Regions from separate parts of the Homo sapiens genome. Here region 1 is reported to be linked to region 2. Evidence: microRNA targets listed by miRTarBase, many of them from high-throughput screens and not tested one by one. Region 2 holds a microRNA gene; the other region holds the end of a gene's coding sequence.

The links. Region 2 holds the annotated microRNA hsa-miR-4708-5p (AGAGAUGCCGCCUUGCUCCUU, at 6,003-6,023, shown strand). A microRNA usually pairs through its seed, bases 2 to 8, with sites in the 3' UTR of a target mRNA and lowers its output. Matches are read on the target gene's strand: a 7mer-m8 pairs with bases 2 to 8, a 7mer-A1 pairs with bases 2 to 7 and ends in A, and an 8mer does both.
Region 1: the mRNA of TULP3 is a reported target of hsa-miR-4708-5p. Seed matches in the 3' UTR shown: 7mer-A1 at 4,327-4,333.

Annotation. Positions count from the first base shown.
Region 1 is chr12:2,936,485-2,947,075 of GRCh38, forward strand. TULP3 (TUB like protein 3) reads left to right here. Exons shown (of 11, transcript NM_003324.5): 9 at 1,147-1,245; 10 at 1,630-1,801; 11 at 2,827-4,654. The coding sequence ends at 2,960. Among named protein-coding and RNA genes, the nearest start is that of TEAD4, 18 kb to the right of the region's middle.
Region 2 is chr14:65,330,587-65,341,177 of GRCh38, reverse strand. MIR4708 (microRNA 4708) reads left to right here and starts at 5,995; the gene lies at 5,995-6,061. RefSeq lists enhancers at 4,747-4,896, 4,957-5,056, 10,010-10,591.

The sequences.
Region 1 (10,591 bases), not on the chromosome of region 2:
TCACTCCTGTAGTCACAGCACCTTGGGAGGCCAAGATGGGCGGATCACCTGAGGTCGGGAATTCGAGACCAACATGGAGAAACCCCGTCTCGACTAAAAAAAAAAAAAAAATACAAAATTAGCCGGGTGTGGTGGCGCATGCCTATAATCCCAGCTACTCAGGCTGAGGCAGGAAAATTGCTTGAACCCGGGAGGCGGAGGTTGTGGTGAGCTGAGATTGTGCCATTATACTCCAGCCTGGGCAACAAGAGTGAAACTCTGGTCCCAAAAAAAAAATAGTTAAGAGTAAACTCTCAAGCCAAGAGATTCTGTTTTAAATGTAGGTGTTTAAAGAAGGTATAGGCCAGGTGCAGTGGCTCACGCCTGTAATCCCAGCACTTTGGGAGGCTGAGGCAGGCAGATCACGAGGTCAGGAGATCGAGACCATCCTAGCCAACTTGGTGAAACCCCGTCTCTACTAAAAATACAAAAAATAATTAGCCAGGCGTGGTGGCATGCGCCTGTAGTCCCAGGCTGAGGCACAGGAATCGCTTGAACCCAGGAGGTGGAGATTGGAGGTTGCAGTGAGCTGAGATTGTGCCACTGCACTCCAGCCTGGCGACAGAGCGTGACTCTGTCTCAAAAAAAAAAAGAGAAGTATAAAGAGATATAATATTACTTTCCTGTTTTTGATTCTGTTTACAGCAAAGTAATAAAATTATTTTTGGTACACCTGATTTTTTTTTTTTTTTTTTTTTTTTTTTTTTTCTGAGGCAGAGTCTCACTCTTGTCGCCCAGGCTGGAGTGCAACGGCGTGATCTCGGCTCACTGCAGCCTCTGCCTCCTGGGTTCAAGCAATTCTCCTGCCTCAGCCTCCCGAGTAGCTGGGATTACAGGCGCCTGCCACCACGCCTGGCTAATTTTTGTATTTTTAGTAGAGACAGGGTTTCACCATGTTGGCCAGGCTGGTCTCAAACTCCTGACCTCAGGTTATCTGCCCACCTCGGCCTCCCAAAGTGCTGGGATTATAGGCGTGATCCACTGCCCCGGCTGATACAGCTGATATTGTCAGCATCTTACATTCCCAAGAAAGTCTCATGTTATAAAAGAATGTGGTCTCTATTTTTTTCCTGTTTCCAAGTTCTGCTTTGTTTTCCTATCTTCCAGGAAACAAACGTACTTGGATTTAAAGGTCCTAGGAAAATGTCTGTGATCATTCCTGGAATGACACTGAATCATAAGCAGATCCCCTATCAGCCACAAAACGTGAGTAAGAATGTATTTAAATCAGTGAAAGACTCTAAAAGACAGTAGTACAATACACAGAGATTAATACAAAAAAAAAAAAAAAGATTGAGCTTCCAGAGCCCCACACTGGAGATAGCTCCATACACTTCTTTAGGAAAGCTGCCCCTCCAAAACCTCAGGATAAGAGCAGTTGCAGAGTCATTGCCTTGAAACCATTTTTTCTACAAAGAGAAATGCTGGATGATGTAGAATAATTTTAAAAAAAACCTGTCTTCATTGTTGGCTTTCATTCTTCGCTTCTGGTTTACCCTTTCTGAAATGGAGAAAGTATTCTCCTACTCTACCTTCTACCTCGTAGAGTTGGAGTTCTCAGTACAAAGTAATGATTTTCCCTTTGGACAGAACCATGACAGTTTGCTCTCAAGGTGGCAGAACAGAACTATGGAAAATCTGGTTGAGCTGCACAACAAGGCCCCCGTCTGGAACAGTGACACTCAGTCCTATGTCCTCAACTTCCGTGGCCGGGTCACTCAGGCGTCTGTGAAGAACTTCCAGATAGTCCACAAAAATGACCGTAAGCCTCCAGGAGGGGTTGGGTGGGAAGAGGAGGACAGATGCTCTTACAGGATGGGAATGCACATTCCCTGTACATGATAGGAAGTGACAGTCAGCAGATAATCATGGAGGAGAGACAGGATTTCTTTGGAAAGATGAAACTACAGTTTTAGAGAAAACTTGTAAATCACTGTGTTGAGGAGGGGAGAGGAGTGTGAGAGAGATGCTATAGCAAATCAGAGAAGTTGGCTGGGCACCATGGCTCACGTCTGTAATCCCAGCACTTTGGGAGGCCGAGGTGGGCAGATCGCTTGAGACCAGCCTGGGCAACATGGTGTGAAACCCCATCTCTACAAAAAATAGAAAAATTAGCTGGGCGTGGTGGCAGGCACTTGTAGTCCCAGCTACCCGGGAGGCTGAGGTGGGAGCATCACTTGAGCCAGGAGGTCGAGGCTGCAGTGAGCTGAGATTGCATCACTGCTCTCCAGCCTGGGTGACAGCAAGAACCTGTCTCAGAAAAAAATAAAAAATCAGAGAAGTCATAGAGTAGGTTGTTTGGGAAACAAAGGCAAATGACCCCAATAAAGGTTCCTGGCAGCTCTAGCCTGCGGAGTTTATGACATTCCCAGCAAGCTGCTCTCTATTCTACAGAAACCTGGTGATTAACTGGCCTATTTGGAGGATTCTTTCTGTATCATAAATAGGATCCCAGCACTTTGGGAGGCCGAGGCAGGAGAATCACTTGAGCCTAGGTGTTTGAGACCAGCTTGAGCAACATAGTGAGACCCTATCTTCACAAAAAGTAAAATATTAGCCAGGCGTGGTGGCGCTTGCCTGTAGTCCCAGCTACTCAGGAGGCTGAGGTGGGAGGATCACTTGAGCCTGGGACGGGAGGTCAAGGCTGCAGTGAGCTGTGGTCATTCCACTAGGCTCCAGCCAGGGCGACAGAGCAAAACCCCATCTAAGAAAAGGAAGAAAAAGAAAAAGATTTCCCTGAGTGCAACCACATTATATTCTAACATGTTGATTTCTTTCTGTTTCTAGCTGATTATATAGTCATGCAGTTTGGACGTGTGGCAGATGACGTGTTCACACTGGATTACAACTACCCACTTTGTGCAGTACAGGCCTTTGGCATCGGTCTTTCTAGCTTTGACAGTAAGCTGGCGTGTGAATGAGAGAACAGTCAGGCAGGGAGCCCTTCTCCCCACAGAGCTTTCAGGAGCAGACAGTGGCCTCCCCTTCCCCTCCCTGCCCCAGGACTTAAAGAGCAATAGTTTGCCCCTTTTGGAATGATCTCTGAATATATAAAACACACACACAAAGAGCAATAGTTTGCCCCTTTTGGAACGACCCCTGAATATATAAAACACACACACGAAGAGCAATAGTTTGCCCCTTTTGGAACGACCCCTGAATATATAAAACACACACGAAGAGCAATAGTTTGCCCCTTTTGGAACGACCCCTGAATATATAAAACACACACACGAAGAGCAATAGTTTGCCCCTTTTGGAACGACCCCTGAATATATAAAACACACACACACCCCGCGCACTCTCACTCCTTTTCCAGGTTTCATAGACTTGGTGAGGGATCACAGCTTAGCATGGGTGAGAGATGATTTAAAGCACAGGGAGATTCTTGTCACATTGGGGTCTCCAAAGCTAGAATGGGATTTCATGTGCTTGGAAACTTGCAGTAGAATCAGGGACTGACATCGCAGTTCCTCTCCTCTCTTCATTCCCTCACAGCAGATTGGCCGGCACCAATCTTAGTCAAGAGTGGCTGTGATCACATTTGTGATCAATTATGTGAGAATTTTATATAATTGTCTTCATTTCAATTAAGGCTGAAAGCATAAACTCTAGAGGTGACTCAGTCAGGACTGACAGTAATGTGATAATTGCCTTCATTTTCAACCCAGGAGTGCCTCTCACAGCTATATGACTACGGATCCATTAGTGAGGAGCGACACACACACCTGTAGGCATCCTGTGCAAACACTTTGTCATTATCAAGAGAGATGGCAGTATTGACCATTTAGTTTAGTTAAAAAAAAAAAAAAAAAGGTGGCAGGAGAGGCTTTGGGGAGGATCAGCCAGCAGACATGAGCACTGCTGGCCCGTGTGGCAGAGCTGTGGACTTTCTTCTCGGCTCCCTCAACCCTGGCTCAGGCACAGAAGGTGTTTTGCTACGTTTTTTTGATTATTACACCCCTCCACGTATTATGTGACTCTTACACCAGTTCACCCTTCCCAGAATGTATCCAAACCTTGAGAATGCAGGAGCTCTGTGAGCTCCACCGTCAGCACCATTCAGCTGCATCCCTTGTGCACAGAACTGTTTGCCAGCGTTGGGTGGGACACCCGTGGCGGCTGCTCCCTCAGACCTCCCTTCTGTGGACTGACCTCTCACCTCCGCCTGTTGTTCCTGCACCACATCAGATAAGCATGTGAAGGAGGGCCAACTGGCAGCTGCGGGACCCTTGGCTTGTCCCCCACCGACAAGTCCCACCTGCTGGGTGAGGACGAGACTGTTTCCATCTCAGGCATGTATCCCACCAAGTGCCTCCCTCACAGCCATGCCCAGAAGCCTCACACCTCGTCACCACCACCACCCCCCACCCCATCCTGAGGCACTGCCTGGCAGATAACCCTGGTTGGCCACAGAAGCTATTAATACACGACAGCATGTGGGGAAGGACTTATGGTGGGCCAGGTGGACCTCATCCTGCTTCTTCCTCCCTCTGGTTTAAAGAGATATATAAACTAATTTCACATAATTTGTGTGTGCAGGTGATTGGTTTTTACATAAGTCCTATTTATACCTTTTATATGTTACAGAAATAAAAGTTAATTTATATAAAAATGTGTCACTGCCTTTGCAAGTCCTATGCCTCAGGAAGTTCCTACTGTCATGTTATATAATCATAATTGTCATCTTGGGCCACGTGCAGTGGCTCACGCCTATAATCCCAGCACTTTGGGAGGTTGTGGCAGGCGGATCACCTGAGGCCAGGAGTTGGAGACCAGCCTGGCCAACACGGCAAAACCCTATCTCTACTAAAAATACCAAAATTAGCTAGGTGTGGTGGTGCATGTCTGTAATCCCAGCTACTCAGGAGGCTGAGGCATGAGAATCACTTGAACCTGGGAGGCTGAGGTTGCAGTGAGCAGAGATCACACCATTGCACGCCACCCTGGGCCACAGAGTGAGACCCTCGCCTCAAAAAAAGAAAAAAAAATGTTTTGGTAACACATCAGTTCTGTAAAACCAGGTGATTACTAACAAACTTCTCATCCTGATGTAGAGCAGGAATCTGCAGACTAAGAAGGCTGTGTTCCGGAGGCTACCTAGACACACTATACACATGATAGCCAGGGGCATCTGGACAGAGGACGGGACCGAGAGCTGAGCTTAGCAAGGCCACAGAGGGTAGAGTGTACATTCTTTGCATGCCTGCCCAGGTCCGCTTCCCAGGTTTGTTCTTGTTGGCATTGTTTACTGGTTCAGCAGCAACACAAATGAACTATCTCATAGACCCCATCGCTTGCCTCTGAATGTTAACGTTTTGTTTGTTTTTTGAGACGAAGTCTTGCTTTATCACCCAGGCTGGAGTGCAGTGGGCATGACCTCGGCTCACTGCAACCTCTGCCTCCCAGGTTTCAGCAATTCTCCTGCCTCAGCCTCCTGAGAAGCTGGGACTACAGGCGTGCGCTACTACACCCAGCTAATTTTTGTATTTTAAGTGGAGAAGAGGTTTCACCATGTTGGCCACGCTGGTCTCGCCTTGGCCTCCAAAAGTGCCAGGATTACAGGCATGAGCCACTGCACCCGGCCTTTTTTTTTTTTTTTTTTTTTTTTTTTTGAGACGGAGTCTGGCTCTGTTGCCAGGCTGGAGTGGAGTGGGGTGATATTGGCTTACTGCAACCTCTGCCTCCTGGGTTCAAGCAACTCTCCTGCCTCAGCCTCCCGAGTAGGTGGGACTACAGGCGTAAGCCACTGCGCTCGGCACCCCCCCCTCCTTTTTTTTTTTTGAGACAGGGTCTCCTGTTGTCCAGGCTGCAGTGCAGTAGTGTGATCTTGGCTTACCACAGCCTCAACTTCCTGAGCTCAAGGGATCCTCCTACCTCAGCCTCCTGAGTAGCTGGAACTATAGGCATGTGCCACCAAGACTGGCTAATTTTTTGTATTAAAGTACAGACAGGGCTTCACTGTGTTTTTCAGGCTCGAACTCCTGGGCTGAAGTGAGCCTCCCACCTCGGCCTTACAAAGTGCTAGAATTACAGGCACGAAATACCATGCCCGGCCTTCACATTTTTAAGCTGCCCTATGTTCAGAAGTTGAAAAAAAATGCTGGGTGTGGTGACTTATGCCCAGCACTTTGGGAGGCCGAGATGGGAGGATCATTTGAGGTCAGGAGTTCCAGACCAGTCTGGCCAACATGGCAAAACCCTGTCTCTACTAAAAATACAAAAATTACCTGGGTGTGGTGGCGGGTGCCTGTAATCTCAGTTGCTTGGGAGGCTGAGGCAGGAGAATCACTTGGACTGGGAAGGCAGAGTTTGCAGTGAGCCAAGATTGTGCCACTGCACTCCAGCCTGAATGCGACTCTGTCTCAAAAAAAAAAAAAGTGTCCACAAAGCTTTCCTAGGCTTTCTGGCTCTTATCAGCATCACAGTGATGAACACATGGAAAGAAGCAAGAAGAGCCTAAAAATCAGGACAAGAGCTGGAGTCGATTCTTACAACTTGATTTTTCCTTTTTTATTTTTTTAGTCTTCCACATGCACAACATGTATTTTCTTTTTCATATGATTCTTTTTGGCTAAGGTGCATGGGTGGCCAGTTTTTCTGTTTTTTTTTTTTTTTTTGAGACAGGGTCTGGCTCTGTTGCCCAGGCTGGAGTGCAGTGGTGTGATCTTGGCTCACTGCAACCTCTGCCTCCTGGGCTCAAACCATCCTCCCACCTCAGTCTCCTGAGTAGCTGGGACTACAGGCATCCACCACCCCCAACTAATTTTTTAATTTTTGATAGAGACAGGGTTTCACCATGTTGCCCAGATTGGTATTGAACTCCTGGGCTCAAGCGATCCTCTCCCCTTGGCCTCCCAGAGTGTTGGGATTACAGGCATGAGCCACCGTGCCTGGCCCAAATAGATTCTTTGTGACACAGTTTTGTACACTAGTGATCAGGGACATACTGGTGGGCATTGACATGAAAGATTTCAGCAAGTGTCAATTACAAGTCTAAAAACAGGCCTGCAAAAGGCTCTTTTTGATCAGTTTAATAGATCATAGAAGAAATGAACTAGCATCAATTCATTTCCTTGAGATCAGCATTGTAAGTGCAGAAATAAAGTGATGGTTCGACTAAGGCAAAATCTTCCTGGGTTCTGACCCTATTTCTGCCAATGATTTGCCATGTGCCTCCTTTATAGATTGAGAGACTTTGAACTACGTGCCCTTTTACATTCTTTTTTTTTCTTTTTCTTTTTTTTTTTTTTTTGAGACAGAGTCTTGCTCTGTTGCCCAGGCTGGAGTGCGGTAGTGGGATCTCGGCTCACTGCAAGCTCCGCCTCCCGGGTTTACGCCACTCTCCTGCTTCAGCTTCCCGAGTAGCTGGGACTACAGGCGCCTGCCACCACGCCTGGCTAATTTTTTGTATTTTTAGTAGAGACGGGGTTTCACCGTGTTAGCCAGGATGGTTTCGATCTCCTGACCTCATGATCCGCCCGCCTCGGCCTCCCAAAGTGCTGGGATTACAGGCGTGAGCCACCACGCCCGGCTACATTCTTGAATTACATGTTTCTCCCCACTCATGCTGACAACACTCTGGCATTCCCCTGTTTTGAGCTGAACTCACTGGTTACCCCTGGACAGCTTCATGTTCATGGCTCATGTTCATTAGCTCTGTTCATGGCTAAGGACGGCTAGCCTGAGAGGTGACACAGAGTTCAGGGAAAGCACAGATTGCCTCAGCGAAGGCACCATGGAGAGGAGACCGGAATTGTGGAAGAAACAGGATCGTGCACTGAGAACTGTCCTCTTTATTCTACCAAGTACGATTTATTAGCCAAGTTGACATTTGTCGATTTGGTTATAGTAACTCTTACAAGCAATTCTTAAGACACACACACAGCTTGCTCCTGAACTCCAGCATGTTGCAAGCTGCGTTTTTCCTCGGCCTCCAGCTCCTGCCCGGGAACTGTCTGCACGTCTAACACCTGCTTCTCTTCAGTCCACAGCTCTCTCAGCCTGGCCCACGCAGGCCCCAGCCAGGGGCATGCCAAGGACTTGGCAGTTTCTGTGCCACCTCCTGAGACACGTTTCCTGACCACTGGCATAGTGGATCATTTTGCCTCCTTTCCTGCTTACGTCTCCTCGTTATCACTGTCGATGGATATGCTTTAAAAGTCTCACAGTCTTTTTTATCAACCAATAGACTCCCCTCATCCACTAAAAGCTAAGGCTGCCACAAATGAAGGGGTGCAGTGAGAACGGCAGATGGTTCCATGGCGCCACCCACTGTCCAGGAATGCATGTTGCAGGTGCGTTAAACGGGCAGACCCCGCACAGGTGAGGAAGTCACCAGGCGAAAACAGCAAGCCGACCACATGACCATGCAGTTACCAAGCACCTCGTGTTAGACCATGGCTCTCTTCTGAAAGCCTGAGAACACTAATATTTCTGGAGTTTAGAAACTAGTTAAGGTGCCAGGCGCGGTGGCTCACGCCGAGGCGGGAGGATGACGAGGTCAGGAGATCGAGACCATCCTGGCTAACACGGTGAAACCCCGTCTCTACTGAAAATACAAAAAATTAGCTGGGCACGGTGGTGGGCGCCTGTAGTCCCAGCTACTCGGGAGACTGAGGCAGGAGAATGGCGTGAACCCGGGAGGCGGAGCTTGCAGTGAGCCGAGATGGCGCCACTGCAGTCCGGCCTGGGCAACAGAGCAAGACTCTGTCTCAAAAAAAAAAAAAAAAAAAAAAAAAAAAGAAAGAAACGAGTTAAGGTATTCTAGGTAAAATGCCCAGGATCTGGCCGGCACAGAATAAACACTAAGTATAGTGGCAGATATCTATATTATCTTTTTTTACTTTGAGGCAGGGTCTCACTCTGTTACCCAGGCTGGAGTGCAGTGGCATGATCTCACTGCAGTCTTGACCTTCCCAGGCTCAAGTGATCCTTCCATTTCAGCCTCCGGAGCTGCTGGGATACAGGCATACAGGCGTGAGCCACCACGCCCAGCTAATTTTTTTTTTTTTTTGTATTCTGTAGAGATGGGGTTTCATCATGTTGCCCAGGCTGGTCTTGAACTCCTGGGCTCAAGCAATCCTCTCACCTCAGCCTCCCAAAGTGCTGGGGTTACAGGTGTGAGCCATTGTGCCTGGCCATAATTTTTATTAATGTTCTTTAAAAATAAAACAATGAGCTCGAATGGTGGCTCGCACCTGTAATCTCAGCACTTTGGAAGGCTAAGGTGGGAGGATTGCTGGAGCCCAGAAGTTCCAGACCAGCCTGGGCAACATAGGGAGACCCCATCTCTACAAAAATAAATTAGCCAAGCACTGTGGCACGAGCCTGTAGTCCCAGCTACTCGGGAGGCTGAGGTGGGAGGATGGCTTGAGCCCAGGAGGCTGCAGTGAGCCAAGATTGTACCACTGCACTCCAGCTGGGCAAAAGAGTGAAACCCTGTCTCTAAGAAAAAACTTAACAGAACAATTATCTTCTTAGCCACGCACTTATAGAGAATGGCTTATACATGTTTATAAAGCAAATTTAGATGGTTTTTCAGAGACAATAGGAGAGGACAGAAGCACAGCACGGTTTAATCAGGTTACTCCACACACCAGTGCTAGCCCAGCCCTGATCCTACCTCCCTTTCCTCACTTTGTACCCATCTCTCTTGTTTTTACTTGAAGTAACTGCCTGTACAAATATTAGCCCTGATGTTGTTGGAAATTTTTGAAGTATTTCAAATACAAAATGGGCCTCCAAGATTCTTTATAGATGGGCCTTGTCTTTTGGTCCGTCAGGCCTGAGCCCCAACACGGCTTTGGCCATGACCAAAGCGGGGTAAAGCTGGGGGCTTAGGTGGGGGCAGGCTTTTTCCTGGTCTATCACCAGCCTTTACTATACCTCTTTGGTTTAACATTGGGGCTCTCAAGCCACAGGGTTTAACATCTAGTTAAGCACTTTCTACCTAGATTCTGCCCCTTGTCATGAATCTTAAGTGTTTCAAGAATAATTATGCAAGGCCGGGCGCGGTGGCTCACGCCTGTAATCCCAGCACTTTGGGAGGCCGAGGCGGGCGGATCACGAGGTCAGGAGATCGAGATCATCCTGGCTAACACGGTGAAAGCCCGTCTCTACTAAAAAATACAAAAAATTAGCCAGGTGTGGTGGCGGGTGCCTGTAGTCCCAGCTACTCGGGAGGCTGAGGCAGGAGAATGGCCTGAACCCAGGAGGCGGAGCTTGCAGTGAGCCAAGATCGCGCCACTGCACTCCAGCCTGGGCAACAGAGCGAGACTCTGTCTCAAAAAAAAAAAAAAAAAAGAATAATTATCCAGCAGTTCTCTTTCTTCCGTAGTTTGGGAGTAGGAAGATTAGGAAGGAAGAATGGTTTGAGGAGAAAGGAGGGTGACAGGCAGAAGAGGGCTAGGAAGTAGAGCAGCATTTTTAAAGTGTGTCTAGGCCGGGTGTGGGCGCGGTGGCTCACACCTGTAATCCCAGCACTTTGGGAGGCCGAGGCGGGCAGATCACTTGAGGTCAGGAGTTTGAGAGTAGCCTGGCCAAAATGGTG
Region 2 (10,591 bases):
TCAAAAGTAAAAACCTATAAAAAAAATAAAATATTGAAGTTTTTTCTTTTTAGAGATGGGGTCTCACTGTTACCCAACCTGGTCTTGAATTCCTGGCCTCAAGTAATCTCCCACCTTAGCCCCTAAAAGTGCTGGAATTACAGGCATGAGCCACCACACCTGGCTTCCTGTATTGAAGTCTTGATTTAAGAATAGACAGGCCGGGCGCGGTGGCTCACGCCTGTAATCCCAGCACTTTGGGACACCAAGGCGGGCGATCACGAGGTCAGGAGCTCAAGACCAGCCTGGCCAACAAGGCAAAACCCCATCTCTACTAAAAATACAAAAAATTAGCCAGGCATGGTGGCAGGCACCTAATCCCAGCTACTCGGGAGGCGGAGGCAGGAGAATTGCTGGAACCCGGGAGGAGGAGATTGCAGTGAGCCGAGATTACACCACTGCACTCCAGCTCTGGTGACAGAGCAAGACTCCATTTCAAAAAAAAAAAAAAAAGGATAGACAGATTGGCTAGTGACTGTAATCTCAGCATTTTGGGAGGCCGAAGCAGGCAGATCACCTGAGGTCAGGAGTTCAAGACCAGCCAGGCCAACGTGGTGAAACCCCGTCTCTACTAAAAATACAAAAATTAGCCAGGCTGGTGGCACACACCTGTAGTCTCAGCTACTCAGGAGGTTGAGGCAGAAGAATCACTTGAACCCAGGAGGTGGAGGTTGCAGTGAGCCAAGATTGTGCCAGCGCACTCCAGCCTGGGTGATAGAGTGAGACTCCATCTCAAAAAAAAAAAAAGACAGATTTCTGTAATATAATAGAAAGATCATATCAAATATACACCCTGATATGCTTTGGCTCTGTGTCCCCACCCAAATCAAATGCTGAATTGTAATTCCCATCGTTGGGAGAGGGACCTAGTGGGAGGTGATTGGATCATGGCAGTGGATTTCCCCCATGCTGTTCTCGCGATAGTGAGTGAACTCTCACAAGATCTGATGTTTTAAAAGTGTGTGGCACGTCCCCCCTCACTCATTAGCTCTCTCTTGCTCCACTATGGAAAGATGTGCTTTGCTTCCTCTTCACCTTCTGCCATAATTTTAAGTTTCCCCAGGCCTCCCAGTCATGCTTCCTGTTAAGCCTGTGGAACTGTGAGTCAAATCTCTTTTCTTCATAAATAACCCAGTGTATGATAAAGCTATCATGATACAATGAGATCAACAAATATTTTTCTTTTTCTTTTCTTTTTTTTCTTTTGAGACAAAGTCTTGCTATCACCCAGGCTGGAGTGCAGTGGCGCAATCTCAGCTCACTGAAACTTCCACCTCCCAGGTTCAAGTGATTCTCCTGCTCCCAAGTAGCTGGGATTATGGGCATACAACACCATTCCCGGCTAATCTCTCTATTTTTAGTAGAGACGGGGTTTCTCCATGTTGACCAGACTGGTCTCGAACTCCTGACCTCAGGTGATCTGCCCGCCTTGGCCTCCCAAAGTGCTGGGATTACAGGCATGAGCCACCATGGCTGGCCAAATATTTTTCAATAAATGGTGGATGGATAACTGACCAGCAGTTTAAGAGGGAAGGGAAGAATTGAGATCCACACCTTATATATTAAAATTAATTTTGTTTGATTTCAAGTCTTAAAAACATTTAATACTGTGAAGTTCAGAAGAAAATAGGATTGAAAATTTGTCAAAACAGTAGTGGGAAGATGACTCTATAATTATAAGCAATACTAATTGCTTATAGTATAAGCAATAGTACATTGCTTCTAGTATAGCAATATAGTATACTACACAGAAAATATTAAAGTACTTAACTACATAAAAATTTTTTTAGGCTGGGCACGATGGCTAACGCCTGTAATCCCAGCACTCTGGGAGGCCGAGGCGGGCGGATGACGAGATCAGGAGATCAAGACCATCCTGGCTAACACAGTGAAACCCCGTCTCTACTAAATACACAAAAAATTAGCCAGGCGAGGTGGCAGGCGCCTGTTGTCCCAGCTACCTGGGAGGCTGAGGCAGGAGAATGGCATGAACCCAGGAGGCGGAGGTTGCAGTGAGCCGAGATCACACCACTGCACTCCAGCCTGGGTGACCGAGTGAGACTCTGTCTCAAAAAAATTAAAAATTCTTTATAAATAAATTTTATATGTAATACATCACCAGAATTAACAACAAACAACATACCAGGAGTTATATTTACAACAAGAACTATGTCAAGAACTCAGATAAGTTGATAAGAATCCCATTAAGATCTCAGCTGATAACTGAATAAAAACTAACAAAACAATTAACAAAAGAACAAGTATTAACAAACACACAAAAGTAGTCAATTTTACTAATTATCAAAAAGAAGCAAATTAAAAGAAGCATGGTATTTTTTCACTAAATTAATTAAATTAACTTTATTAAATGAACTCCTTTACTAAATTAATCCCTACCAAATTAAAATGGAAATCCCTAAATCCAAACCCAGTAATATCAGGACCTGTATTCCTTGGGTAGTACCATAAATTGATGTAACCAATTAGGAAAGTAATTTTAAGTCCTAAAAATATTTATGCCCTTTGACCTAATAAATCTCTTTGGAGAATGAATCGAGAGCAGAGCAGCAGAAGCCTAAAGCCATTGCCAAAACTCACAGTTTCATCCTTTCATGCTTTCCCTGAATTAGGCCTTCCCAGACCCTATGCCTGTGCTGTTCAATACAGTAGCCACTGTCCACATGCACCCCTCTTTCCTCCACAAGGTAATAAACTCCATAAGAGGTACCCTGTCAATCTTGTTTCCTGCAGAATACTAGATCTTAGAACAGTGCCTGGCACACAGTAGGCGTCAACAAATACTTAGTGAATGAATTTATGAATGAATGTCAAGCTATTCCACCAATCCTCCCCAAATACGCTTTGAGCTTTCTTGTCTCCAAGAAAGTCTTGCCTCAAAGTGTTTGTTTTTGCCCTCTTCTAACCAGAATCTTTATTGCTTATCTAAAACGATGTACTTTGAGCTTCAAGTAGAAACTGCCCAACTCAAAAGCATTTCATGATAAGATTTTTTTTTTAATCTTACAAAAGAAATTCAGGGCCGGGCACGGTGGCTCACGCCTGTAATCCCAGCACTTTGGGAGGCTGAGGTGGGCAGATCACGAGGTCAGGAGATGGAGACCATCCTGGCTAACATGGTGAAACCCCATCTCTACTAAAAATACAAAAAATTAGCTGGGCATGGGGGCAGGCGCCTGTAGACCCAGCTACTTGGGAGGCTGAGGCAGGAGAATGGCGTGAACCCGGGAGGCAGAGCTTGCAGTGAGCCAAGATCACACCACTGCACTCCAGCCTGGGCGACAGAGCAAGACTCTGTCTCAAAAAAAAAAAAAAAAAATTCAGAAGTTGTGCAGTTCCAGGGTTGGGTAATTCCATAGCTCAGCAATGTTCTCAAGGAACCATGCTTGTCCACCTTTTCTCTCTGCCACTCTGCAGCTGTTGCCTTTACCTTCCTCTTTATGTTTGCAAGATGGCAATAGCAGTTCAAGCTCTATGTCCTTAACAACATCTCAAGGCCAGAGTACCTTGCTTCCTTTTGAAGACTTAGAGATTTTCCCAGACGTCCCTTCTGCAGTTTCCTTTTATGTTCCATTGTCCAGAACTATAGCATATGCCTTATTTATTTTATTTTATTTTATTTTATTTATTTTGAGACAGGGTCTCACTCTGTGGTCCAGGCTAGAGTGCAGTGGCTCAATCATGGCTCACTGCAGTGTCAAACACCTGAGCTCAAGCAATTCTCCCACCTCAGCCTCCTGAGTAGTTGGGACTAAAGGTACGCACCACCGTGCCCTGCTAATTTTATTTTTTATTTTTGTAGAGAGGAGGGCTCACTATATTGTCCAGGCTGGTCTCAAACTCCTGGACTCAAGCAATCCTCTCATCTTGGCTTCTCAAAGTATGGGAATTACAGGTATGAGCCACCATGCCCAGGCCAGTACATTCCCATTCTTAAACCAGCCCATTTCTAAACCAGTTACTGGCAAGAGTAGAAAATTTTCATGATTGGCCTAAAGAATCCAGATTCACCTTCCTTGGGCTGGCTGAGTCCCGCATCCCAGAGCTCCTGGTTGATATAACTGAAAGAAGTGGAACTAGGGTAGGAGGCTGCACTCCAGGAGATAAAATGGTCTCAAAATAAGCCCTTGAGACTTTTTATAAGTCACAAAATCCTACTAGTTTTTCAAAGTGCAGCTCAAATCTTGGGTCTTTCATTAATCTTTCCCTTATTATCTTAACCAGAAGCAGCCCATCCCTGCTATAAATTTAAAACCTTGAGTATCGGCCAAAAACACTGGAATCATTCCTGATTTCTCTCTTTATGTCATAAATCATAACCCTATATCTCATCTATCTTGTCTACTCTACCTTCATTATATATCAGAATCTAATCTCATCTCACCACCCTTAGTCTCTTCTCTCTGGTCCAAGCCACCATCATCTTCATCTCATCCCGGATTATTGCAGCACCCTTCTCACTGGCCTCACACTTCTCCTTGTGCACTCTTGGAGTCCATGCTCAGAGTGATCCTTCCAAGGTGTGAGTCCAATCATGTCACTGCTCTACTCAAAGCCCTCCAATGGCTTCAAAACAAAATCTAAAGTCCTTACCACCACTTGCAGGGTCCTCAGTGATCCACTCTGTCACCTCTCTCATGTCCTCTCCTGCCCACAGTCTCCTGCTCACTACTTTCCAGCTACACTGGCCTGCTTGTTCTTAGAACTCACCAAGCACACTCCTTCCTGAGAGCCTTCGTGCTTGCTGCTCGCCTTGCTTAGAAAATTCTTCACAGACTCAGATGACTCACTCCCTCCTTCTTCAGATTTTGACTCAAATGTCTCCTTACCAGAGAGGTCTTCTCTGATCTCCCATCTAAAAAACCACATTCTCTTAACCATGTCACTCTACCCTCCTTAATCTGCTTCATTTTCCTTCAAAGTACTTCCCAGAAGCTGGTGTATTATACATATTTATTTGCTGACACTCATCTTGGCCTCTCAAAGTATGTCTTGTCTCATTAGAACATAAGATCTAGGGGGTGGGGGAATAGGGGAGGGATAGCATTAGGAGAAATACCTAATGTAGATGACGGGTTGATGGGTGCAGCAAACCACCATGGCATGTATATACCTATGTAACAAAGCTGCATGTTGTGCACATTTATTCCAGAACCTAAAAATATATATATACATATATACACATATATACGTGTGTTCCTTATACATATATATATATAAGGAACATAAGATCCATAAAGCCAGGGGTTTTATCTGTTTTGCTCCCTGTTTTTTGAGACAGCCAAGTGTAAAGGGGTCCCCTGAGAAACTCCGACTGGCCTGCGCACTGGGAGAACAGGGTGGAGCTGCAGAAGTTCACACCCTTTGCAGCAGGAAGGAGCCTGGCCTCTCCTGATCCAGGGTAGTACATGGGATTCAATCAGTGAGGCAGGAAAAACCAGCAAGCAGGACTCTCACTTTGCTGAGAGTCCCTGTTTCCATTTATTTTCCTTTTTGCCCAATAAGTTCCATTCTTCTCACCCTTCAAAGTGTCTGCAAGCCTAATCTCTCATGGCTGTGTGACAAGAATCCGGCTTTTAGTTGAACTAAGGAGAAAGTCCTATAACACTTTAGCCTCAGAGCTTACAACAAAACATAATTAGTGCTCCATATATATTTGTTCAATACTTATGTATTCCCTTAATGTTTGTTATCTGTTGGGCATGGTCTCTAGCTGCTATCTTTACACACATCCTGTCTCTTCAACGGGAACATACGATTCTTAAAGGCCAGAGCTGAGTCTTAAAGCTCAAGGCCTTAACATAAAGAGGCCACTCCAAAGTGTATGTTGTTGACATTTGGAGGGAGGATACATTGGGGCAGTAACAGCTGTTGTTATGTTACCTACCCGCTCTTGGCAGGGCCCTGAGAAGCTGAGGTATGAGACACAACAGCATATTTAGGAGAGAGATGCCGCCTTGCTCCTTGAACAGGAGGAGCAAGGCGGCATCTCTCTGATACTAAAAGGAGAATACGGGAGCACCTTTCTTACCTACATTTCCCCTGGAACTAGTCTTTCCACTTGCAAGTTTGTTTACAATTCCACGTTCTTTGCAACTGAATGGGGCCTCACCCTCATTAATTGGTGGCAAAGGTCACTCCTTAACAGATGCTAAACAGAAGCAGAGCAAAGTTAAGGGTGGCTAAGGTCACACAGAGTCGTTGCTCAAATTTAGGAAGGAAACCCACCTAGTGTGAGGTGGGGCCCCAGGAGGGGCATCTGAGCCCCAAGAGAGCAGCTCTCTTTAGCCCCTGCTCTAGTTTCTTTGCAGTTCTCCTAAAGAAGTTCACCAGCAAGGCCATTTACCAGACACCAGGGAATCAGGCCACTTTCAAATGTTGATAGCATTACGCTTGCCAGAGGAGAAAGGGACAAGTGAGGAGACTGAAGACAGTGCTTTCAAGAAAAAGAAGAAAAAGATATTGAATGTGCACTCGCTAAGCCAAAAAAGCAAATGCCAGGAAGAACCGTGAGCCTTGTTTGAAGCCAAGTCTGCGCAGAAGAGTCCCAGGTGTAGGGAAGGAGGAGCTGAGGTGGTCTGAGGACGCACAGCAAATGCCCTGGGGGGTGGGGCGGGAGGAGAGAACATATTTTAAGCAACCTTAAAAGACTCGTTTTAGCATTCCGCAGGAAATGAAAAGCAGATGTGTTGGTTTGGAACTTGTTTACATATTTGGCCTCTGAGAAGCTTCCAGGACAGTTAGGACTGGAGAGAAGGGGTATTTTAGGCAAATGCTATAGTCTCCACTTGGAGAGAGTGGGGCCCTTCATTGGCTCACCTGCTTCCTGAGAAGCAAGCATTTAGGCTGAAAGACCATCATTGTCCCTAAGACAGGTCTGGCTAGAATAAACCAGGATTTGATATACAGAACTGGTCTCCTTGTACCTTCTTACAGAAACTAAGGGTTGTTGCACCTCCTCTCTTGCTTTCAAGTCACACCCACTGGGCAGAGAAGTGAAATCAGAGGCCTGGACATTGGGAGGATGATGGGATGGTTCACACCAAAGGTCCTGAGATTTGCAGAAGGCTTGTTAGAATACAGATTACTGGGTCTCACCAGCTCAGCCGAGCTAAGATGAGGCCAGTGGCTACACACTGGAATCATCTGGAGATTAAAATAGACTGATAGCTGAGCCCTGTTCCCACAGATTCTGATATTAATTGGTCTGGGGTGTGACTTAGGCATTTTTTAAAAATTATTTTTAATATATAATAGAGAGGGGGTCTTACCATGTTGCCTAGCTGGTCTCAAACTCCTGGCCTCAAGCAGTCCTCCTGACTCAGCCTCCCAAAGAGCTGGGATTATAGGCGTGAGCAACCATGCCCAGCTGACTTGGGCATTGTTTAAAGCTCTCCAGATAATTATAAGGTATAGCCAAGGTTGAGAACCATTGAACTATTTATCTTTTACCTGCTCTCATCATTCCATCCCTAGATTAACTTCAATTTACCTTCATAACATGTTCACAAGGTGGTTAGGACCACAGGAGACCGTGGGATCTAAATTAGGCATAAACCTGGATTTAGAGAAGGGGCTAAAAGAATATTGCTCTCAGAGACATCAACTATCAAAAAATCTATGTAAATGCAGGCAATTCCCCTTTTTTGTAGTATGTCCAGGAAATGGCGCTCCTTAAAAGATATTTTTTAGTTGCTAAGGGACAGGAAAAGTAGCAATCTTTAACACTTATTGAGCATTTATTATGTGCCAAGTACTCTTCCAAGTGCTTTCATTTTAAATTAATTTAATTTCCACAACAGCTCAATGATGTTGGAGCTGTTATTTTCCCCATTTAGCAAATGAGGAAACTGAGATACTAGGAGATGAACTAATTTGTCCAAAATCACACAATTAGTCAGTGGTAGAGCTGGCTTTCAAATTTTGGTGTGCCTCTGAATTACGGAGACTACGGAGACTCCGCTGAGAAAGAAAAATAGCTCAGATCAGTCTGAGCTATGTGAAGTATACAAAATTTATCAAGCCTGGAGAGACAGGAGTATGGGACTTCAGTCACATCTCTGCGCCCATGTCCAGGGCAACTGTGTAAAGGCATTTTGTTCCTGCTTAACTGCCTTACCCATTATCTTCATGTTGGAATTTGTGATGCAAAGAATAACACATACCCAATCAATAGCTTATGTTATTTTAGTATAAATTCTTGGTAAACAATTTAGGAGCTGCCTCTTCTTTATTCCTTAAAAATCCTCTTGTAGCTATTTCTAATCAGAGTGTGGGTTTAGGGCAACTTGAATCTATGCTCTTGGGTGGCCACCCTCAAGCTTTGAGCTTGAATAAACTTGAAGCCATCTTCACCATGTTAACAAGAATTCTGGACAGAAATATAGTTATGATTAAGCATTAATTAGGCTGCACTGTGGCTCACTTCCTTGTAACAACAGGAAGTGAAAGTTGTGGAGTACTAGATCCTGACCACTTGCATCCTCATTGTTCCTACAGATAGTATTTCTGTCTGAGGTTAGAATCATCAGGCCTCTGATTAAGATAGATAGAATCTCTGACATTAGAATCATAAGGCTTTTGTTTAAGAATTGCTTAAGATGTTTTTCAGATCCCAAATTTGAGCTGATGCCAACAAGTTTGAAGACCCCCAGAGGAGAGCAGAATCAGCATGAGAATATAGTTTCTTCATCTCCCTGTTCTATGACTTCATCCTGCACCCTTGGGCCAAGCAAAGATCTCCACACTTCAGCCCACTCCAAAATCACTAAAAATTCTAGACCCAAATTCCTTGGAGAGACTGATTTGAGGTTTCCTCCCATCACATTCAGCTGCCCTACAATTAAACCTCTTTCTCTCTTGCAACTAGGTGTTTCAGCGTATTGACTTGCTATGCACATTGGGCAATGAAACGATTATGGTTACAAACTCTATATTTAATCATCTCTTCAGAATCTCATTAATTTAGGTTGTGAACCCCAAATATCTGAGACAGGTCTCAATTTAGAAACTTTATTTTTTCAAGGTTAAGGATGCACCCGTGACACAGCCTCAGGAAGTCCCATGACATGTGCCCAAGGTGGTCGGGGCACAGCTTGGTTTCATACATTTTAGGAAGACATAAGACGTCAATCAATATATGTAAGATGTACATTGGTTCAATCAGAAAGGTGGGACAACTTGAAGCAGGGAGGGGGCCTCCAGGTCATAGATAGACAAACATTCTTTTGAGTTTCCAATTACCCTTTCCAAAAGAAGCAATCAGATATGCATTTATCTCAGTGAGCAGAGGGATGACTTTGCGTTCTGTTTGTCCTTTGTCCAAAAGGAATTTCCTTGTAGACAAATTGTGAGGCAGGTATATAGCTTTTTTATCTTAGTAGCTATCTCCTTTAAGGAATAGAATGGGAGGCATGTTTGCCCTAAGCAGCTCCCAGCTTGACTTTTCTCTTTGGGGGGGTCCAAAGATTTATTTTCCTTTCACAAGGTTGACACTGTTCAAAATACTAATGACCAGGCTCTAACCGAGACCAACTGGATCAGGATCTCCTGGAGTGGATCTTTATCAAAATTATTATTATTATTATTATTATTATTATTATTATTATTATTGAGATGGAGGCTCACTCTGTCACCCAGGCTGGAGCGCAGTGGCGTGATCTCAGCTCACTGCAACCCTCCACCTCTTGGGTTCAAGCGATTGTCCTGCCTCAGCCTCCTGAGTAGCTGGGATGACAGGCACGCACCACCATACCCGGCTAATTTTTGTATTTTAGTGGAGACAGGGTTTCACCATGTTGGCCAAGCTGGTCTCAAACTCCTGACCTCAAGTGATCAACCTGCCTTGGCCTCCCAAAGTGCTGGGATTACAGGCGAGAACCTGGCATATCAAAATTATTTTTAACAAATCTCCTAGAGAGTTAGTTGTTGGACAAGATATGAGGCCACTGTTGGGGGTTATTTATTTATTTAGAGACAAGATCCCTCTGTTACCCAGGCTGGATTGTAGTGGCACTGTCATGGCTCACTGCAGCCTCAACTTCCTGGGCTCAAGTGATCCTTCTGCCACAGCCTCCCAAGTAGCTAGGACTACATGTACACACCACCATGCCCAGCTGATTTTTTTGTTTTTTGTAGAGACAGAGTCTCACCATGTTGCCCAGACTGGTCTAGAACTCCTGGCCTCAAGTGATTCTGCCTTGGCCTCCCAAATTTCTGGGATTACAGGCTTGAGCCACTGTGCCCAGCCTCACTGTTGGGGTTTAAAATGAAGACTTTGGAATCAGGTTATCCTAGGTTCATTATTTTGCCACCACTTACAACTGGAATCTTTTAACAAATTCCCCATTCTCCCTTTGAATTTTCATTTCCTCATCTGCGTTGGAATGATTATACTTAGTTCTTGAGATTGTTCTGAAGATTACATGGGTTTAAGGTACTTAGCATAAAAATAGAGGCTGGAACATTGCAACTCCAGAAGGTATTTTGAGACATTAAACAGGTCCTCCCTTCTACCATCAACAAAACACACTTC